4 linked regions of the Homo sapiens genome follow. The protein of the gene in region 4 purifies or fractionates together with the protein of the main gene of each other region. This does not show direct contact. Each region holds a gene or a part of one and is shown on either strand. Other genes may lie near its edges.

Region 1 (3,563 bases), on a different chromosome or scaffold from region 4:
ATCTCAGCTGACTGCAACCTTCGCCTCCTGGCTTCAAGCATTTCTGCCTCAGCCTCCCAAGTAGCTGGGAATACAGGTGCCTGCTACCATGCCCAGCTAATGTTTGTATTTTTATTAGAGACAAGCTTTCACTGTGTTGGCCAGGCTGGTCTCAAACTCTTGGCCTCTGGTGATCCACCCACCTTGGCCTCCCAAAGTGCTAAGATTACAGGCGTGAGCCACCATGCCCAGCCCACAGTGGCTATGATTCTCTTGTACATTTGTACATTTTTGGAGGGCAGTTTGACAGTAAATTAAGGCGTGCACTCAATTTTTCAAATTTTACTTCTAGGAATTTATCCTAAGGAAATCATCAGACTAGTCAGATTTATAAATGAGAATATTAGTCATGCTGTTTATAATATTCAATAATTAAAAATCTAAGTTTTTATCAACAGATATACTATTAAATAAATTATAGTCCATTCAGCCATAAAATATAATGTTGATCAGTGGTTCCTAACTTTGGAGATCATTGAACCCTATAAGAACCTGAAGAAACTCCAAAATTGAAGGTCTTGGTATCTGGTTAGTATATATTGCTATCGGAAGATGTCCATACTATGGACAAAAAGCTGTTGTATGTATAATAATTTTTAAAAATTGTCATGTTGTCCAGGCGCAGTGGCTCACGCCTGTAATCCCAGCACTTTGGGAGACTGAGGCAGGCAGATCACCCGAGGTTAGGAATTCTAGATCAGCCTGGACAACATGGCGGAACCCCATCTCTACTAAGAATACAAAAATTAGCTGGGCATAGTGGTGCATGCCTGTAATCCCAGCTAGTCAGGAGGCTGAGACACGAGAATTGCTTGAACCTGGGAAGCAGCGGCTGCAGTGAGCCGAGATCCTGCCACTGTACTGCAGCCTGGGTGAGAGACAAGACTCTATCTCAAAAATAAGATAAATAAAATAAAATAAATAAAATAGTCATCCATAGAAAAAAGCCTGATTAATATATACCAGTACATTAATGATGATTATCTCTAAGTAGTCATCATTATCTTTTTAGTTTTTCTGTATTTTTGCAATGAGTGTGTATTATTTTTATAATAAGAAAAATTACATTTTTAAAAATAAAGGAGAATTTAGAAAACAACAGAAAAGTAATAGAAGGAAATAAGCTAGGGAAACTATTAGCCACCTCTGTGACATACAAATAATGGTTTTTACATGTAAAGGTATTTCCTAACTCCCAGTAGGAAAAAAAAAAAGGGGGCAACCTGTATAAATAGATAGTTCATCAAAGAAATGACACCAGTAGCCAATTAAAAGATAACGAAAACACCCAATTTCACTAGTAATCAAGTTAGTGAAAAATAAAATTTTTTTTTTTACCCCATCAAGTCAGTAGAGGTTTTAAAAATGTGCGGTGCTCACTGTTGATGAAAGTGTACGAAGATGGACATGCTAATACATTAGTTATTGGAAAGCAATTTGGCAATAATATCAGGAGCCTTAAATTAAGTTTTTTCTTTTTGCTATCGTACTTTGGTTTGTAGTCCAATCTAAGAAAATCACCAAAAATTGGCATCCTCTTAAAAACTTTCCATTTTAATAGCATTCTTGAGGTATAATTGACATGCAGTAAACTGCACATAATGTGTACAATTAATGAGAATCAAGATAGGAAACATATCTGCCACCCGCTGCCCCCACCCCCAGAGTTTTCCTTTGTAATCACGCCCTCCTGCCCCTTCCCTCACCCTCCCATCCTCAAGCAACCTCTGGTCTACGGTCTGTCACTAAGGATTAGTTTGCGGATTTTTAGAATTTTATATAAATATGGAATATAATGGAATATAAATGTGGAGAAAAGGACATTCAGGATGTACTTTTTTTTTTTGAGATTTATCCATGTTGTTGTGTGTCTCGTTCCTTTTTAGTGTTCACTCCTTGGTTTTCCTTTTTTTTTTTTTTCTTTTTTGGTTATCTAGACCTGCAGATGTTCACTCCCTTTTAGTGCTAAATAACATCCCATTGTACATCATCTGTTCACTTGTTGATGGACATTTACCAACATATCCTTTTAGGAAAAATTTGAGACCCCTAAATCTGCAGAAATAGAAGGGTTAAATTATGCTGTTGCTGCATAATGACAAAGGGCCATTAAAAATGATATTTTAGAACACTTAACAATACAGTTTTACTTATAATGTGTTTTATTGGGGGAAAACAGGATATAAAACTTTTTATTTAAAAGATATATATACCATACACATCAAAAAAAGAGACAGGAAAAAGTAGATTGGTTAGATTACTAAATGTTTTTATTTTCCTTATCATGTTTATCACTAGCAAGAATAAATAAATGCCATTTAAAAGAAAATAACTAAACTAAACATGCAGTTACCATACAACACAACAATTGACTTTTGAGCATTTTTCTTTGGGAAATGAAAACTTAGGTTAACAGAAAAACTTGTACACACATGTTCATAGCAGCTTTATTTGTAGTAGCCCCAAACTGGAATCAACTCAGATGTCCTTCAACAGATGGATGGTGAAACTATGGTATATCCATACTGTGGGCTATTTCTCAACAATAAAAAGAAGAAAATTATTGATACAGGTAACAACTTGGATGAATCTCCAGAGAGTGCTGAATGCAAAGGCCCATTCCAAAAGGTTATATGCTGTGCAATTTATATAACATTTGTATAGCATTCTTTTTTTTTTTTTTTTTTTTTTTTTTTTTGAGACAGAGTCTCGCTCTGTCACCCAGGCAGGAGTGCAGTGGTGCCATCTTGGCTCACTGCAACCTCTGCCTCCCGGATTCAAGTGATTCTCCTGCCTTGGCCTCCTGAGTAGCTGGGATTACAGGCGCACACCAGCACATCTGGCTAATTTTTGTATTTTTAGTAGAGGCGGGGTTCCGCCATGTTGGCCAGGCTGGTCTCAAACTCCTGACCTCAGGTGATCTACCTGCCTTGGCCTCCCAGAGTGTTGGGATTACAGGCATGAGCCACTGTGCCTGGCCTATAGTGCATTCTTGAAAAAAAAAAAAAAAATTGGCCAGGTGCAGTGGCTCACGCCTGTAATCCCAGCACTTTGGGAGGCCGAGGCAGGCGGATCACCTGAGATCAGGAGTTTGAGACCAGCCTGGCCAACATAGTGGAACCACGCCTCTACTAAAAATACAGAAATTAGCCAGATGTGGTGGTGTGCGCCTGTAATCCCACCTAGTTGGGAGGCTGAGGCAGGAGAATCACTTGAACCCCAGGGGGCGGAGGTTGCCGTGAGCCAAGATCGTGCCACTGCACTCCAGCCTGAGTGACAAGAGTGAAACTTCATCTTAAAAAAGAAAAAGAAAAAAAATGTTTTTAGAAATTCAGGTCAGATTAGTGGCTATCAGGAGCTAAGGACCGTGGAAAGAGGAGGGAGGTAAAAGGATCCTTGCAATGTTGGAGTTGTTGAGTATCTTAACATTGGAGGTGAATATATGAAAACCTACACAGGTGATAAAATTGTGTAGAACACACACATACAGTAAAACAAGAAATCTGAAGATCAGTGGATTGTAT
Region 2 (3,618 bases), on a different chromosome or scaffold from region 4:
TTTAGGAGGCTGAGGCGAGTGGATCACCTGAGGTCGGGGGTTTGAGACCAGCCTGGCCAACATGGTGAAACCCCATCTCTACTAAAAATACAAAATTAGCCTGGCGTGGTGGGCGCCTGCAATCCCAACTACTCCAGAGGCTGAAGCAGGAGAATCGCTTGAACCCAGAGGAGGCGGAGGTTGCAGTCAGCCTAGGTCACATCATTGCACTCCAGCCTGGGCAACAAGAGCAAAACTCCATCTCAAAAAAAAAAAAAAAAAAAGAAAGAAAGAAAAGAAAGAAAGAAATCCCCGAGGGCTTGGCACCAAAGAGCCCTAACGAAGGGGACTCTCTGACACGTGTCCTTGCTCTGTCCCAGTGAGCCAAGCCCCCCGAGAGGCCCCTGCTCGTCGGGCCCCATCCTCAGCGCAGTACCTGGAAGAAAAGTCTGACCAGCAAAAGAAGGAGGAGGTAGGCATGGGAGAGAGCAGCTGTGCGGAGGTGACAGAGTCCTGGCTGCACCTGGCCACGGCCCCTTAGTTCTCCATCCCCAACCCAGACTGGGACAGCAGCCACATGTCACGTCCCCTTCACACCAGAGCCTGGTGGGGAGACCTTCCAGAGCCCTACCACTGACCATGGGGCCCGGGAAGTGGGGGAGGGCAGTGGGAGCCCTGCCCTGGCCAGGCCAAACCCAGCCTAAGCCGGCAGTTCTGGGCCCAAGTGCTTTTGGGACCTTGGAGTATATTTTGAGCACTTGAGGCCATGTGCAGAGATAGTAGCCCTTGTATCTGGTGCCACATGCCGCAGCCTCTCAGTCTCTTACTCCCCCTGTCTCTTCTTTGTGTCTTTTTCAATAGAAACCCATCGATTTTGTCAGGGCTGTAATTAAAATGGCTCTTTTGAGGCCGGGCACGGTGGTTCATGTCTGTAATCCTAACACTTTGGGAGCCCAAGGCAGGCGGATTGCTTGAGCTCAGGAGTTTGAGACCACCCTGGGCAACACGGTGAAACCCCGTCTGTACTAAAATACAAAAATTTAGCCGGGCATGGTGGCGGGCGCCTGTGATCCCAGCTACTCGGGAGACTGAGGCAGGAGAATCACTTGAACCCAGGAGGTGGAGATTGCAGTGAGCCGAAATCGTGCCACTGTACTCCAGCCTGGGTGACAGAGCGAGACTCCGTCTCAATAAATAAATAAATAAATAAAAATAAAAATAAAAATAAAATATAGTGGCTCTTTTGGCCAGGCATGGTGGTTCACACCTGTAATCCCAGCACTTTGGGAGACCAAAGCAAGAGGATATAAGTGATGGAGTTTGAGACCCAGCCTGAGACCAGTGAAACCCCATCTCTACAAAAAAATTTTTTAAATTAACCAGGTGTGGCCAGGCATGGTGGCTCACGCCTGTAATCCCAGCACTTTGGGAGGCCGAGGAGGGCGGATCACCTGAGGTTGGGAGTTCGACACCAGCCTGACCAACATGATGAAACCTCGTCTCTACTAAAAACACAAAATTAGCCGGGCATGGTGGCGCATACCTGTAATCCCAGCTACTTGGGAGGCTGAGGCAGGAGAATCGCTTGAACCCAGGAGGCAGAGGTTGTGGTGAGCCGAGATTGTGCCATTGCACTCCAGCCTAGGCAACAAGAACAAAACTCTGTCTCAAAAAAATAAATAAATAAAATAAAAATTAACCAGGTGTGGTGTTACACACTTGTAGTCCCAGCTACTTGGGAGGCTGAGGCAGGAGAATTGCTTGCACCCAGAAAGTCAAGGCTGCAGTGAGCCATGATTGCACCACTGCACTCCAGCCTTGGTGACAGAGCAAGACCTTGTCTCTCTCTAAAACAAACAAACAAACAAAAAGGCCGGGCGCTGTGGCTCACGCCTGTAATCCCAGCACCGTGGGAGGCCGAGGCGGGCGGATCACGAGGTCAGGAGATCGAGACCATCCTGGCTAACACGGTGAAACCCCCGTCTCTACTAAAAATACAAAAAATTAGCCGGGCATGGTGGTGGGCGCCTGTAATCCCAGCTCCTTGGGAGGCTGAGGCAGGACAGTGGTGTAAACCCGGGAGGCAGAGCTTGCAGTGAGCCGAGATCGCGCCACTGCACTCCATCCAGCCTGGGCGACAGAGCAAGACTCCGTCTAAAAAAAAAAAAAAAGTTCTTTTCACAGCCTTGTCAGGGTTGTTCTTGGAGTGGGAGAGGGAACAGGGAGTCCTATTCCCTTACCTACCCTTCTTCTGCCCTCTCTCCCAGCTGCTGAATGCCATGGTGGCAAAACTGGGGAACCGGGAGGACCCACTCCCCCAGGACTCCTTTGAAGGCGTGGACGAGGACGAGTGGGTGAGTAGTGAGTGGCCTCACTTCCCGGCAGGCAGCGCGGTCCCTCGCACATGCCACGGTGCATGCCTCCTCCCTTCCCAGGCCCTCCTGACTCCCTCCCACCTCTTGGTGTTTCGCCCCAGGACTAGCCTGCGCCCCCGTCACCTCCACCTCACCTGTGCTGCCACTTCCTAGTGCACACCTCACGGCTCATCCTCAAGCTGGAAGATACCTCTCTGGCCCCGGCACATGTCACCCCTGCACTCCTGCCTTCCCGTGGGCACTTCCACATCCTCTGGGCCTCTGGCAGTTCCCAGGGACTGTTTTCACCTCTGCTGTCTCTGGGGTCAGCTGCTGCTCATCAGCTGCCCGCTAGCATGTGGCCAGGGGTGCAGGGTGGCGGGGGGTCAGCAGCATGTCCCTGGGCAGGCCCTGGGCACCCTGTCTCCCCTGGTCTCACTGCTGACCTGGGCTGGTCCCAGCCTGGATTGGCCTCATCCAGGATCTTTGGTCACCCCACGCTGCCCCATCTTGCCTGCTGTTCCAGTTCTGGTCAAGGGCCTTGGGGGCTGGCCCCCCACCAGGCCTTCTAGAGCAGCACCAGTCTCAGGGCCCTGGGACCAGCTGCCCTACTTCCCAGGTTTGTAGCCAGGAGAAGGGGGCATCACAGAGCTGATGGTCCAATAAGGGGGGTGTGAGCCCCGCAGGGACTGGCCCGCACCTGCCTTGGATGTTTTCAGCAATTAAACTTTTTTAAGCTGGCCACCTCTTGTGCTGCTGTGGTCTCTGGGCTGGCTGGAAAGGGAAGGGGACAGGAATGTGGGTGACAGGGGTCTGGCCCTGGGCTCCCCTTTATCTCAGCCTCACTCTGGTCCCAAGGCCCAATCACCTGCGCACTGCTGGGAGTCATTCGCTCACCATGCAGGTTCCTGGCAGTGCTCTGGATGGCGGGATGCTATAAAGGACAGGAGAGATAAGGTCTTGCAAGGACCTTCAGCTTCTTACAGCCTCCTTATGCAGGGGAACCAGACTGCACACGAGCATATAGAGTGTGAAGACAGCAGTAAAGAAGAGAAACTGGCTGGGCACGGTGGCTCATGCCTATAATACTAGCACTTTGGGAGGCCAAGGTGGGAGGATCGTTTGAGGCCAGGAGTTCAAGACCAGCCTGGCCCACATGGTAAAACGCTGTCTCTACTAAAAATACAAAAAGTAGCCAGGTGTAGTGGTAAGCGCCTGTAATCCAAGCTACTTGGGAAGCTGAGGGAGGAGAATTGCTTGAACCCAGGAGTCAGAGGTTGCAGTG
Region 3 (3,563 bases), on a different chromosome or scaffold from region 4:
CTGCACCAGTGCGCTCCTCGATTCCCTAAAGAGGCTTCCAGAGAAAACAGCAGCACATATCAATAAAAAACTCAGCAGAAACCAACAGCACACTTTTATTTAAGGACCTATAGCTGTGCAGGATGCAAACATCTGGGCATCAGTGACTTTCCTCCTGCCCCCGTTTGTCCCTGATGGTGGCAGAAGATCCCAGCTGACCACAGCCCCTTTCTCTGGGGTCAGAGGGAGAAGACAGGCGCAGTCAGCAGGGGCAGCTGTTGCAGGTGGGAGGGATATTTTCCCACAGGAACAAAGGTCTCCGTGATGACACGGGGTCTCTATAGTCATGTTGAGAGCCTAACGGCCCTTGGCATAATTGCTGGTGTTGGGGTAGAAGGTGTCTTGGAGTTTGCTCAAGTGGTTGAGAGGGAGGGAGGTGCCATAGACTTGGAGGAACTGGCACGAAGCCAAGGATACAAATCCAGGCAGGGCTGTGGGACAGGATAGGGAGCAGGGCCTTCTACTGAAGGAGTGACTCAGGAAGGAGGAGGGGAAGGTGACAAGCCCCTGGGCAGGAGCCCTGTGGCCATGGATCATTTTAAATTGAGACCAGAGAGTGAGCAGTCCAGGGCAGCTATAACCTTGGCTAGAAAGGGCAGAGGCAGATGGGCCTGCTCCATCTCGCCTCTTAAGAAGGTGGGCAGGACGGAGATGCCACAGTGGATGCCACAGCTGCCACAGCCTCCTGCGGAGACCAGGAAGGAAGCCTGGCTCTCAGCCATGCAGGATGGAAAGAAAGATTCTATTCCAGGAGGGGAGCTGCCCTGGAACGCCCCAAGGACAGCCAGGACCCACTGTTCATTCAGGATTCCCCCATTTTCTCCTACGGGAGCTAACGCCTGTGCCTGGGTCCTGGCAGCACTCTGGACTCCACACTCTCCTCCTGGGTTTCACCTTTGTAACAGGATCCCCGCAGACCACGCCCACGACAAACACTGTCTCCAGCGGGCAGGACAAAGGAAGGGCACGGCGCCAGGCAGTGGTGTGGTTGCCCATCAGGAAGAGGCCGACTTCTCCCGGTGAAACTGGGCAGACAGAAGGCAGTGAGAAATGTGATCTCGGGGTGGGGAGGCTCTCAGAAAGAAAAAGGTAGGACTGACCTTCTGCACAGCAGCAATGGCGGGGCCAAAGGTAGCTTTGACCTCCACACGGGCTCGGATCCAGGCCGGCAGCTTGGCCAGGACAGGGGGCCGGGCATATCGCTGGTCCAGGAGCACTACGCTGGCAAAATCCTTCTGGTGCCTGATGGCCCTGCCTGCATAGGAACAGAGGCTGGGGCTCCGAGCAACACCTGCCTCCCCCCTACAGCACATTCCCACGGCGACCCCCTCCCCTTCCTCAGACTTATATAGGAAACAGGGCAGGCAACCCCTCTTTCCTGTTCTCCCTTTCTCCAGCCCCCATCTGTCCACCCAGCTGGAGGCAGCCAGGCTCACCTATGGACTGGTTGACGGCCTTCATGCACAGGTTCTCCACCAGAGCCTTCCCTGGGGGTGCCTGGCCGGGGGCTCTGGGCTGGGAGTGAAGGGGAAGACCCATCAGGACTGTTCCCTGCCTGCAGCTCCCCCTGGGAAAAGACCCTGCCAGGCTTTGGAGCCAGACCAGGAGGCTTCGTGGCCAATGCCAGCAGCAGGGGTCCAGGTGACATCACAGGGAAGATCAAGAGGGTGTGGAGGGGCATCCAAGCTTCCGGAGGGGGCAGGAGACGCCAGCGCAGCGGGGAAGGCCTGGCTGTATCAGCCCTGGGGGTGATGCCACTCCCACCCACTGCCTACTCTCCTGTCACCCTCTGTGACACTGGGGTCACTCACGAGGGTTTGATCCAAGTAGGCCATCTTCTCCTGCAGCTCTGCAGACCTGATGTTGGGGAAGGGCATGCCCACCATCACCACACACCTGGGCGGGGGAGACAAGAGCCCAGCAGGTGGACGTCAGGACCTCCCGGGTCATCACCCACGTCACCAGCTGCTCCGTTCTACCCCTTCCCTCAGCCTCTCCGACTGTGATCAAAACTCAGCCTCTCTCCACTCTGTACCTACCACCTGGAGAGGGCTTGTTCGGCTGAGAGATCCCGTCTAGGCCAATTGACTGGGTCCTGATACAGCAATGGGTAGCCTAAAATCCAACTGCTCTCCCAGGACCAAACCCAGAGCTGCTGAGCCCCTCCCTCCAGCTGGCTGGTCTGAGCAGTCGCAGCCCAGCTGTGGGCTCTAATGGCAGCAGAGAGCAGGCAGGGGCCCAGCTGCTGGGAGTGAGGGCCGGCCATGTATCACGGCCCAGGAGACGAGCAGAACCACTACTTACCGGCCTAGGTTGTCAGAGAAGTTGATCCCTTCACTCATCTTTCCTCCAACCACAGAGAGGAGCAGGGCCCCTGTCACCTGGCCTCTCTCCTGGCCACAGGCCTGTAGGAGAAACCCAGACGCTGAGTTGCTGAGCCAAAACTTGGATGACACCCACAACGTTTCCAGCTGCCACCCCCACACGATCTCAGACCCAAGCCCAGCATGACGCCCGCACCTGGATGCACCTGGAATATGCCAGCAGCACCTGCTCCACCTGGTGTGCGCTCTTAGGTTCCTGGAATATCTGAGAAAGACAGAGGACATTTCCCAGAGACAGGTTCAGGGTGCCAGGTCTCGAGTCTGCTCGTGGCCTTGTGTTTTCTGGCCAGGGGACTGGAGAACCTCACAGCCAGGGACTTTGGGGGAAATCCTCTGTAGTCAGGGACTGGGAGCGGTGGGGATGAGGAGCCAGAAGCCTGTCCTGACCCGATGAGCACGAGAGCTCCCAGGAGGACTCAGTGGCACTGTCCTCACAAGTGGGAAGGCTGCCGACAGGCCACTCACCTTCTTCCTGGCAGCCAGACGGCCCAGCAGGCCACCCTTCTCCCAGTGGGCATGGACCTGGCGCAGGTACTCGTAGGAGGGGAAGAAACAGACCACCCCTCCAGGAACCACACCGCACAGGTTACAGAGAATGCGACCCACCTCGTCCATCTAAGGAAGGAAAGGAGGGAGGGAGGGAGCCCCCATGGAGCAACCCCTCAGCCACCCACAAACCGCGTCTTCACCTTGAGACTCAAAACTGAGGAGAGACCCTCGGCAGGACTACAGCCAAGGAAGAGGACTTGGCTCCCCTGGGTGGGAACCACGGGGTGGTAGGTGCCACCTCCCACCAAACACACCCAGCCGCTGCTGCTGACTGCGCCTTTCTGACACATGTCACAGCACTAGCGTCCCTAGGGGGCCTCCCTATTGCCCTGGCACTGAGTCCTCCCTTCTTCTGTCCAGGGTCCTGATGGGCACCACAACGACAATCAGGGGCTGCACACCCCAGGCACACCACAGGAGATGCCCCCAAGCCCCACATCCCTACCCCCGGCAGGGGCAGATATAACCAAAGGGCAAGAGAGCCAAAGGGAACTAGCAGCTTTCTCCTGTGTGAGGCGTCCTCAGAGGATGCCTGGAGGTTTTATGAATACATATTTCGCAGCCTAAGGCGTGAGGGGCGGGGAAGCTCAG
Region 4 (4,024 bases):
AGCCACGAAGAAGGCAGCTACCTCGTCCTGAATGACAAGAAGTGGATGAATGTGAGACCCCATCCAGCTCGCACCCTGTGCATGCCATCCGTGATCCTTCCAAGTACCTGACCCAGGTTCAGTACTGGCCACAGAGCTACCCTGCTGCTAAGTTTTCTGGGCCTCCCCAAGCCTACAGGGCAGAAGGCAAACTCCTCAGCCTGGCATTCAAGGCTCTGATCTAGCCCCAATCCCTCCCCTCAATGCGGCTAAAACTCCAGCTGTAGGCTGGATCATTTTCCCACCTTCAAACCTTTGTTCCCACCATGTCCTGCAGAATACCCTCCCCACTCCTGTGTCTGGCAAAATCCTTAAAGTTTCACTCAAATGCCACCTTCCCCAAACCAATAAGGCAACTCTGCTTTTAAATGCTCCCACTGCATTTGCATATGCTTCCAAGGTATCAGAACTGCATATGCATCTGTCCATTCTAGAAAAGGGTAAACTCCCTAAAGGCAGAAGCTATGACCTACAGCTCACTGCCTTCCAAACACAGGTGCTCAATGAAGCCTTAAGCTAGTCCCACTGACACTGCAACCTATCCCTATGGACAACTGTTCATTGTAGATGTGCTAAAGGCCAAACATGTATGAGGCTGTGGGTGAGACCACATTACTTAAATGTGGAAGGGACCCTTCCAGAGTTGCTTCCCTGGGACTCAGTTTCCCTTTCATGCAACACTTTTTTACTCATGCCCACTTGGTGCCAAACGTTATGCTAAGGGACAGAGATGACCAAACAGTACTGTTGTTCTGAAGGAGCTTGGGTCTGGAAGAAAAGGAACCCCTTAAGTACTTACAAGTCCATTCAGCAGATGTTAGATGGCAGTTTCTACAAGGTGCAATGCAGGGGCATGGAGAAAGAAAATAGAAAATCTGCCTGGGGCGATCAGGAAAGGCAACACTGATGAGAAGCAAGGAATGACTAGAAAGGGGTAAAGAGGGGAGAGGCTGAGAGAAGGATGCTGCAGGCAGAAGGAACAGCCTGGGCAAAGGCATGGTAATAGCATCATTGGGCACACAGCATCATTGGGAAATGCAAATTGAGTCATTCAGCTCCGAAGGAGCATAATATATACTGTGGGGAAAGCTGGGAATGGGGCTATGGAGGCAGGGAAGCTCTGACTTGATCCTGTAGGCAGTGGAGAATTGCCAAATTCAGATTTTGAACAGGACTATGATACCTTTGGAGGGGGTGGCATGAGACCGGGAGATCAGGGGGCCTTTGGAGAGAGGAAGACTGAACTAGAAAGCGAGGTTCCACATAAGCACACTGGAGGCTTATTTAAGGAGGCAGAATTCACAGAGCTTGGTAATGCCTAGATGTGGGCGGTGAGGGAGAGGGGGCAGCAGGAAAGGAATCCCCCGTTTCTGACCTTGGAGGGCTGGGTAAAAAGGCAACATAGGAGGGGCAGGTTTGGGGGCAAGGACAAAGAATTGGGGATAAATTGAGCCCCTCTCTTGCAAATAGCAAGGATTGCGTACCAAATAAGCGAAAGGATAAGATGAGGGCCCTAGGGACCCTTCCTGAGGAGGCAGCTGATCTGTACAGGGGACCGGGGACCCACCCCCATTCCCAGCCCCTCACCGTGGTGGCCTGTGAGGCCCCCAGAGTGAGTTCCTTCAGCAGGTCTCGGGTACTGAAGCCCTCCTCCACCATCACAAAGTCCGATTCACTCAGGTAGCCAGCCATGCCTTGCAGGAGGAGCTGACGGGCTGGATGGAGCCGCTGCTGCAGCCGCCGCCTTAGAAAGTATGCAACACACTGCGGGGCGAGGGGAGATGAAGGGAACCGCTGGGGGGCCGGCTCTGCTGCCCCACTCGCCTCCCGAGGCCAGGGATCCCAATCCCGTCACAACCCGCCCCCAGCACAAGCCCGGGGTTCACTGGGCAAGGGTGGAGAAAGTCAAGAATCCCGGATTTCAGACGGAGACAAGGCACCGTATGCCCAAATGTCACTGCCTCTCCGAGTCAGTTGCTCCCTCTGTAAAATGGATGAATTGTTTTGGAGAGCCTTCCCAGTTCTGAAATTCTGGATTTCAGGAAAGAGTGAGAGAGAGATGGAACAGAAAATCTGAGAAACTTGGGTGGGGAAGTTTCCAGGGCGCCCCCAGTCTTGACCACGCCCACCTAGAGGGTAGCCGGTGGCCACATCAAGGCGTCTCAGCCTAAGAGCAAGAGCTTAAGTTCGAGTCCGCTCTCTACTGCTTGACCTCGGGTACCCTCTGACCCTTTCGGAGCCGCAGTTTCCCCAATTGTAAATGGGGGCTGGACTGATCCTGAGGTGCTAGAATTCTAGGCGTGCCTGGGGACGCCACGCGGTGGGTGGGGGCCGCAAGCTCCTGGGAGAGAACGGAAGGCCGAGGTTTTTTCTGTCCGAGTGACTCCTACAGAGTGCAGGGCTGAGGTCCCCCCAACCCCCAGGGCCCCTTACCAAACTCCGTCCTCCTTCGCGGGGGCCAGAGCCAGGCGCGCTGCTAGGGGGGGTCGCCGGTGACCTCGAAACTTGTGCAACACCCCGAGGAGGAGTGGCAGTTGCGGAGCCGAGGCCTCTGCTGACAGGAGGCAGAAGGGGCAGGGAGGCAGGTCAGCACCAGGGCGGAGGGCGTCCGCTCCCCGAGGCTCCCCAGGCCACTTTCCGCACTCGCCTTAAAACGCATTTACACGGCTTCGGCCCATAGGTCTCCCCAGGGAGTGAATCGGATCCTCGGCGCCTCCGCTCTCTCGCTTCCCCGGGCTCGGGTCCCGCGGCCTGCGCCCCGCCAGCCCAGCAGCCACAGACCCCCACGCCCCGCCTTCCGCCCGCCGCTGGCTTATATAACCCCGCCCAGGCCCCGCCCATAGTGCCGAGGCCCTACCTCCGCTTGGCCGTAGCCCTGGCAACCGGGTGCCGCCATCCCATTGGTCGATTCCGACATAAAGCATTCAGCTCTGCTCGCCCTTACTGTAGTCTTCTCCCCCGGAGGCCTGGCGGTGGCTACCTCACGCTGGAAGTCAGAACTACAGGGCCGCCGCCACGCAGGTGAGACACTTAGACCCTGCATCTTAGGTCTTAGAGAGTGGGCAGGACCAGGAAGCCTTTTCTGCCTCTGCCTCAACTTACTTCGTGGTCCAGCTCTTGTCTGCGTCAGGAACTGCTCACTCATCTCTCGAAACCCGGTTCCAATGACATGTCCTTGTATTACTTTTGTAATAAAATTCTTTTTATTTAATTGCCTCTTCCAGGCATCTTCCCCGACTCCAACTCAAAACGCATCTAAAATGTCTTCAGAGAACCTTTTTGTGACTTTCCCAGTTCAGGGCAATCCCTCCCTTTATCCCATCCTGTGAACCCGGCAAACTCTTACTCATCTCTCAATAGAAATGTGTCTCCTTCTCCAAGAAGCTTTCCCGGACTTCCTCAACTCAAAGCATTTCTTCTATACCGAAAGCTGCTGCTCACCCATCAAAGTCCTGTATAATGTCACCTCTGTTGAACCTTCCATGACTTGCCTGGCCCCAAGGAACACAGCATTTAGTCTGTCTGGACCCCTCACTCATTTGGTTCTTGTTACCCATAGCGTGAGATTCCTGTTGTTATTTTACACTTCTTGTTTGGTTACACTTTGCATCTAGTTTGTGATTTCCCAAGGGCAAGGACTGAATACCCTGCTCAAGAGCCTGGTGCCTGGCATAGACAAGAATGCTGAGGAAGATTCAATAGCTGTGTTACTCAAAAGCTGATATAAAAGTTCATCTGGAAAAGTAAGTGTACAAGAACAGTCAAGACACTCTTTTTGCCCAGGCTGGAGTGCAATGGCACGATCTCAGCTCACTGCAACCTCTGCCTCCTGGGTTCAAGCGATTCTCCTGCCTCAGCCTCCCAAGTAACTGGGATTATAGGCGCATGCCACCACGCACAGCTAATTTTGTATTTTCAGTAGAGATGGGGTTTCACCATATTGGCCAGGGTGGTCTTGAACTCCTGACCTCCAGTAATCTACCCG

Evidence for each region.
Region 1: the proteins of AZIN2 (region 4) and SMARCAL1 purify together in Homo sapiens (affinity purification with mass spectrometry; one large-scale study listed by BioGRID and IntAct). This does not show direct contact.
Region 2: the proteins of AZIN2 (region 4) and CORO7 purify together in Homo sapiens (affinity purification with mass spectrometry; 2 studies listed by BioGRID and IntAct, with this or other methods). This does not show direct contact.
Region 3: the proteins of AZIN2 (region 4) and DDX11 purify together in Homo sapiens (affinity purification with mass spectrometry; 2 studies listed by BioGRID and IntAct, with this or other methods). This does not show direct contact.

What each region holds. Positions count from the first base shown.
Region 1 is NC_000002.12:216,471,421-216,474,983, forward strand, and holds part of SMARCAL1 (SWI/SNF-related matrix-associated actin-dependent regulator of chromatin subfamily A-like protein 1), read left to right. Parts: intron 1-3,563. UniProt on the Homo sapiens protein: ATP-dependent annealing helicase that binds selectively to fork DNA relative to ssDNA or dsDNA and catalyzes the rewinding of the stably unwound DNA. Rewinds single-stranded DNA bubbles that are stably bound by replication protein A (RPA).
Region 2 is NC_000016.10:4,354,001-4,357,618, reverse strand, and holds the end of CORO7 (coronin-7), read left to right. Parts: intron 1-359; coding exon 360-451; intron 452-2,246; coding exon 2,247-2,333; intron 2,334-2,455; coding exon 2,456-2,461; 3' UTR 2,462-3,077; downstream 3,078-3,618. Other genes in the region: CORO7-PAM16 protein, read left to right, coding at 360-451, 2,247-2,333. UniProt on the Homo sapiens protein: F-actin regulator involved in anterograde Golgi to endosome transport: upon ubiquitination via 'Lys-33'-linked ubiquitin chains by the BCR(KLHL20) E3 ubiquitin ligase complex, interacts with EPS15 and localizes to the trans-Golgi network, where it promotes actin polymerization, thereby facilitating post-Golgi trafficking.
Region 3 is NC_000012.12:31,101,308-31,104,870, reverse strand, and holds the end of DDX11 (ATP-dependent DNA helicase DDX11), read right to left. Parts: intron 3,039-3,563; coding exon 2,889-3,038; intron 2,629-2,888; coding exon 2,560-2,628; intron 2,445-2,559; coding exon 2,344-2,444; intron 1,936-2,343; coding exon 1,851-1,935; intron 1,555-1,850; coding exon 1,476-1,554; intron 1,295-1,475; coding exon 1,140-1,294; coding exon of another isoform or gene 1,065-1,139; coding exon 1,035-1,064; coding exon of another isoform or gene 838-1,034; 3' UTR 72-837; downstream 1-71. UniProt on the Homo sapiens protein: DNA-dependent ATPase and ATP-dependent DNA helicase that participates in various functions in genomic stability, including DNA replication, DNA repair and heterochromatin organization as well as in ribosomal RNA synthesis.
Region 4 is NC_000001.11:33,079,957-33,083,980, reverse strand, and holds the start of AZIN2 (antizyme inhibitor 2), read right to left. Parts: upstream 2,829-4,024; 5' UTR 2,687-2,828; exon of another isoform or gene 2,594-2,686; 5' UTR 2,473-2,593; intron 2,381-2,472; 5' UTR 2,169-2,380; intron 1,804-2,168; 5' UTR 1,732-1,803; coding exon 1,627-1,731; intron 964-1,626; exon of another isoform or gene 839-963; intron 28-838; coding exon 1-27. UniProt on the Homo sapiens protein: Antizyme inhibitor (AZI) protein that positively regulates ornithine decarboxylase (ODC) activity and polyamine uptake.